Regions from separate parts of the Homo sapiens genome. Here region 1 is reported to be linked to region 2. Evidence: microRNA targets listed by miRTarBase, many of them from high-throughput screens and not tested one by one. Region 2 holds a microRNA gene; the other region holds the end of a gene's coding sequence.

Region 1 (3,000 bases), not on the chromosome of region 2:
GTCATGTGCCTGTAGTCCCAGCTACTCAGAAGGCTAAGACAGAATGATCACTTGAGCGTGGGAGTCCCAGACCAGACTGGGCAACACAGTGAGACCCCATCTCTAAAAAAATGAAAAAATAAAATTATTAATTAGTGTCTCTATTCAGGAGATATTTTAACTTGAGGTTATTCTATTTCCTTTTGTCATAAGACTAACGGGTCTCTCAGTGTTTCTCACTTTTTGTTATTGATACCCAAAGATTATCATGTACGTACCAAAATGCTCTTTTATCTGTTAAAACCAACATACTGCTTATTGATTAAAAGTAAATCCTACTTTTCTTTCAGAGACTAATAGATTGGAATATATTTTTGTTTCAGCTTTCTGATGAGTTAAAAAGGTCCCAGAGATATATAGACACTGGAGTACTGGAAATTGAAAAACGAAAATCGTGTGTGTTTGAAAAGAAGAATGCAACTTGTATATTTTGTATTACCTCTTTTTTTCAAGTGATTTAAATAGTTAATCATTTAACCAAAGAAGATGTGTAGTGCCTTAACAAGCAATCCTCTGTCAAAATCTGAGGTATTTGAAAATAATTATCCTCTTAACCTTCTCTTCCCAGTGAACTTTATGGAACATTTAATTTAGTACAATTAAGTATATTATAAAAATTGTAAAACTACTACTTTGTTTTAGTTAGAACAAAGCTCAAAACTACTTTAGTTAACTTGGTCATCTGATTTTATATTGCCTTATCCAAAGATGGGGAAAGTAAGTCCTGACCAGGTGTTCCCACATATGCCTGTTACAGATAACTACATTAGGAATTCATTCTTAGCTTCTTCATCTTTGTGTGGATGTGTATACTTTACGCATCTTTCCTTTTGAGTAGAGAAATTATGTGTGTCATGTGGTCTTCTGAAAATGGAACACCATTCTTCAGAGCACACGTCTAGCCCTCAGCAAGACAGTTGTTTCTCCTCCTCCTTGCATATTTCCTACTGAAATACAGTGCTGTCTATGATTGTTTTTGTTTTGTTGTTTTTTTGAGACGGTCTCGCTGTGTCACACAGGCTGGAGTGCAGTGGCGTGAGCTCGGCTGACTGCAAACTCTGCCTCCCAGGTTTAAGCGATTCTCCTGTCACAGCTTCCCAAGTAGCTGGGATTTACAGGTGTGCACCGCCATGCCAGGCTAATTTTTGTGTTTTTAGTAGAGACAGGGTTTCGCCAAGTTGTCCAGGCTGGTCTTGAACTCCTGGGCTCAAGTGATCCGCCCGCCTCAGTCTCCCAAAGTGCGAGGATGACATGTGTGAGCTACCACACCAGCAATGTCTATGCTTCTCGATAGCTGTGAACATGAAAAGACATCTATTGGGAGTCCGAGGCAGGTGGATTGCTTGAGGCCAGGAGTTAGAGACCAGCCTGGCCAACAAGGCAAAACCCCGTCTCTACTAAAAATATGAAAATTAGCTGGGCTTGGTGGCTCATGCCTATAATCCTAGCTACTTGGGAGGCTGAGGCACGAGACTTGCTTAATACCTGGGAGGCGGAGATTGCAGTGAGCCGAGATCACGCTACTGCGCTCCAGCCTGAGTGATAGAGTGAGACTCTGTCTCAAAAAAAAGTATCTCTAAATACAGGATTATAATTTCTGCTTGAGTATGGTGTTAACTACCTTGTATTTAGAAAGATTTCAGATTCATTCCATCTCCTTAGTTTTCTTTTAAGGTGACCCATCTGTGATAAAAATATAGCTTAGTGCTAAAATCAGTGTAACTTATACATGGCCTAAAATGTTTCTACAAATTAGAGTTTGTCACTTATTCCATTTGTACCTAAGAGAAAAATAGGCTCAGTTAGAAAAGGACTCCCTGGCCAGGCGCAGTGACTTACGCCTGTAATCTCAGCACTTTGGGAGGCCAAGGCAGGCAGATCACGAGGTCAGGAGTTCGAGACCATCCTGGCCAACATGGTGAAACCCCGTCTCTACTAAAAATATAAAAATTAGCTGGGTGTGGTGGCAGGAGCCTGTAATCCCAGCTACACAGGAGGCTGAGGCACGAGAATCACTTGAACTCAGGAGATGGAGGTTTCAGTGAGCCAAGATCACACCACTGCACTCCAGCCTGGCAACAGAGCGAGACTCCATCTCAAAAAAAAAAAAAAAAGTAAGAAAGAAAAGGACTCCCTTAGAATGGGAAAGAAAAATCATAAAATATTGAGCTGATGCCTGTATATAGAAATTAAGCGTTTCTCGAAAGCTGTTCTATGTTTTGCTGTTATTTTAGTCTTTATTCTCTTCCTTTAGGTGGAGAAACAAAGTACCAATTTGAAGGGATTTTTTTTATTTTGTCTTTTGGTTTCTGTCAGTAGAAATAACCATATGTGCTAACCAAATTTCTGTGAAGAATGTTTTCATGGTTATCATTATATCTAACTATAACCTCCCCCATAGTTATGAAGAGTAACCTGAAATGCCACTATTGTGGAAATAGGATAATTGTAATTGTGAAAAAATAATTTTAAGGAAATCTTACAAGTATTACATTAAAAAGATACTATGACTGCCACCTGCCATTTACCTTCTAATAACCCTGCCATGTGGTTTGCAGAAAGAGATGGATATAGTAGCCTCAGAAGAAATATTTTATGTGGGTTTTTTGTTTTTCGTTACTAGATTTCATGGATGAGGGGATATGGTTGACCTTTTACTTTTTAATGGAGCAGCCAGTTTTTGTTAATTACTCACTTGTAAATTGTGAGATTCTGAATTCCTTACCTGCTATTCTTGTACTTGTCTCAGGCCAAATCTATGCTGTGGTTCTTATGAGACTTGTATGAAGATGCCCTGATTTGTACAGATTGACCACGGGAATACTACTGCCATGTAATCTGTATAGTTCCAGATAATTTGTCATGAACATTGACAGAATGACAATTTTTTGTATTTGCTTTTTCTCCCTTTAAGAGCACATTCTTCTGTAAGGAGAAAGGCAGCATTCTGGCTAAAATGTG
Region 2 (3,000 bases):
GTGTTCCCATGTCCTGAGAAAGCACAGGGGATTATAGAGTACTTCAGGATGACAACTCAGCCTCAGAGGGTGGCAGAAAAGTTAAGTCCTGAAGCATTATGGGAAGTTCACACACTCAGTATTGGACTCATTAGAAAGACTGGAAAGCAATGGCTATAATACCATTTCTACTGGACATTTGTGGAACCCCCAAAATTTAGATGAGGCACATAGGCTAAGATTATCAAGAGATTCATAAGTCAAGATTTAGAATTTGAACTATATACTAGTGAAAGGCCATTGACCAAAGGCTGTTTTAGGAGAATCAATTAGGTTGTAGTCTGCATATCATAAGCTCTATTTTCTTTGAAGTTCCTACCAGCTAATAGGTACTTAGTAAATATTTGTGAAAAAAATGAATGAATTAATGACTAGGAAATCACCCAAAGTAGCAAATCTATTTATGGGAATTTTCCCACTACAGGTGACATGCCCCCAGATGAAACCAGAGGCCGCCAACATTGAAAAGGTGATGGAAGCAAAAAAACACTTCTAAAAACAGTAAAGACGTTGGTAACTAAGAAGTTTTAATTATAACCTTCTGCTCAAAAAAGGAATGTACCCTTACTGCAATTGCACACATTACTTGTTGTCGTAGTTCATTTGTGTAGCTACAAAAGAATACCCGAAGCTGGGTAATTTATAAAGAAAAGAGGTTTATTTGGATCACAGTTCTGCAAGCTGTACAAGAAGCATTGCACCAGCATCTGCTTTTGGTGAGGGCTTCAGGAAGCTTCCACTCACGGAGGAAAGGGTAGGAGAGCTGGTGTGTACAGAAACCAGGGGGAGGTGCCAGGCTCTTGTTAATGATCAGCCATCAGGGGAACTCTCATAGGAACTAATACAGCAAAAACTCACTCCTTATCACCAGAATGGCACTAAGCCATTCATGAGGGTCCACCCTCATGATCTAAACACCTTTTATTAGGCTCTGCCTCCAATATTGGGGATCACATTTCAACTTGAGGTTTGCAGAGTCAAATATGGAAACCACAGCATTGGTATAAAATATATGTATAAAACATATTTACTATAGAAAGTAGTAGACATTTTCTTGAATTGTTATTCTCTATATCAAGTTGTACATAAAATGCAATGGTTACATTTTAAAGAAATTTGGTGAAGGTAGGCTGGGCACCATGGCTCACACCTGTAATCTCAGCACTTTGGGAGGCTGAGGTGGGAGGATCACTTAAGCCCAGGAGTTCAAGACCCCCTGGGAAACATAGTGAAACCCCATCTCTACAAAAAAAAAAAAAAAAATTACTAGGTGTGCTGGCACACATCTGTAATTCCAGCTACTGGGGGGCTGAGGTGGGAGGATCACTTGAGCCTAGGAGGTGGAGATTGCAGTGAGCCAAGATTACACCACTGCACTCCAGCCTGGGTGACAGAGCAAGTCTCTGTCTCAAAAAAAAAAAAAGAAAAAAAAAAAAAAAGAAAAAAGAAGGAAAGAAAGATTACATTGTAATGTTAAGCATTATCTATTTATTTTTTTTATAATGAGGTATATCCAAACCAAGTATTTGTATTTACTTGAACTATGTAATAACTTTTGAATAATATCTCTTCTGCTATATTTAATAAGATTAGTTCCACTGTCCCTATAGTGGCTTTTTCAAGGTCGCCTGTGTGATGATGGAGCTGGGAATACTCTGGGGAGAGAGTCCTCTTTTCAGCTGTATTTTGCTTCCTTCCCACACAGACATCTGCTGTGCCTCTTACTCACTTTTAGTTGCTGTTTTGGATTTTATGCCCCTTTAATCAAAACTTATTATGCCACAAGATAGATTGACTTGTTTCCTGAATTCTTTATTTTTATTTAAGGGTTTCTCTGTGAAATCTTAGGCATATTATATCACATTTGATTGTCAAAATTTTACGTGTTTGATTTTTCAAAGCTGACCTTCATATCATATTTGTGTGGGCTTATGTGACTATAGTAAAACTTTTTTGTGCCTTTCTTTAATACTTCCTTATAAGAAGTATACGTGTAATTCCAGCAATTTGGGAGGCTGAGGCAGGAGGATCACTTGTGCCCAGGAGTTTGAGATCAACCTGGGCAACACAGGGAGATTCTGTCTCTATATTAATTTTTTTTTAAGTTTGATGGTGTGCACCTGTGGACCCAGCTATTTGGGAGGCTGAGCTGGGAGGAACTCTTCAGGCCAGGAAATTGAGGGTACAGTGAGCCTTGATTGTACCACTGCACTCCAGCCTAGGTGACAGGGCAAGATGCTGTCTCAAAAAAAAATAGTAAAAATCTTACAATGATTGACAGAAGTATAATAATTTCAATGGTGGCTTTGAGCTAATGAATTGTTTCTTAAAGCTATGTGAAAGCCAGCTGTGTAATAGTAGAGATTATAAATTGAAACTGTGTTTTTGATGAGTTTAAGTGTTGCTGACATACAGTTTATTTAAATTTCAGTCTTTTTTTTTTTCTGTACTCTTTACCTTCCTCAGTCATCAATGAGTTCCAAAAGGGGGCTTTGAAGTAAATCATAGATTCTGTTTGATACTGTAGGAATTTCCATATTCTAGTACAGCAACTCTATTAAATAAACACATTGTGTACTTAAATTGGATCTCTCACAAGTCACAAATAATATATTAGAACTAGAGCTGAAGTACCTTTATATTTGCTACTTTTGTGTCATACCTTTCTAGATTATTGGCTTTCTGAAGGATATTAGAAAGCATCTTCTAAGATACCTAGTAAAACAGAAGTACATAGAAAAATTTGTGAAAATCTTTCCTTTTTGAAAACCACTGGTTGTTACATATGAACTTTTCCCCAGAGTTACAAAAGAAAAAGAGTATTTTTCAGGAATAAAAGACATTTAACAATTTTATATTAGTAAGGTATATATTTCACAGATTTGTCTATACCATCTATAATACATAATCATTTCTTTTAAAAAATGGCTTATGATATTCAGCTTTTTATGCATTCTTACA

The links. Region 2 holds the annotated microRNA hsa-miR-8082 (UGAUGGAGCUGGGAAUACUCUG, at 1,676-1,697, shown strand). A microRNA usually pairs through its seed, bases 2 to 8, with sites in the 3' UTR of a target mRNA and lowers its output. Matches are read on the target gene's strand: a 7mer-m8 pairs with bases 2 to 8, a 7mer-A1 pairs with bases 2 to 7 and ends in A, and an 8mer does both.
Region 1: the mRNA of MAGT1 is a reported target of hsa-miR-8082. Seed matches in the 3' UTR shown: 7mer-m8 at 2,129-2,135.

The regions. Positions count from the first base shown.
Region 1 is chrX:77,826,598-77,829,597 of GRCh38, reverse strand. MAGT1 (magnesium transporter 1) reads left to right here. Exons shown (of 10, transcript NM_001367916.1): 10 at 363-3,000. The coding sequence ends at 378. Among named protein-coding and RNA genes, the nearest start is that of ATRX, 42 kb to the right of the region's middle.
Region 2 is chr4:113,150,617-113,153,616 of GRCh38, forward strand. MIR8082 (microRNA 8082) reads left to right here and starts at 1,666; the gene lies at 1,666-1,746. The region is part of intron 1 of ANK2 (ankyrin 2); the gene reads left to right.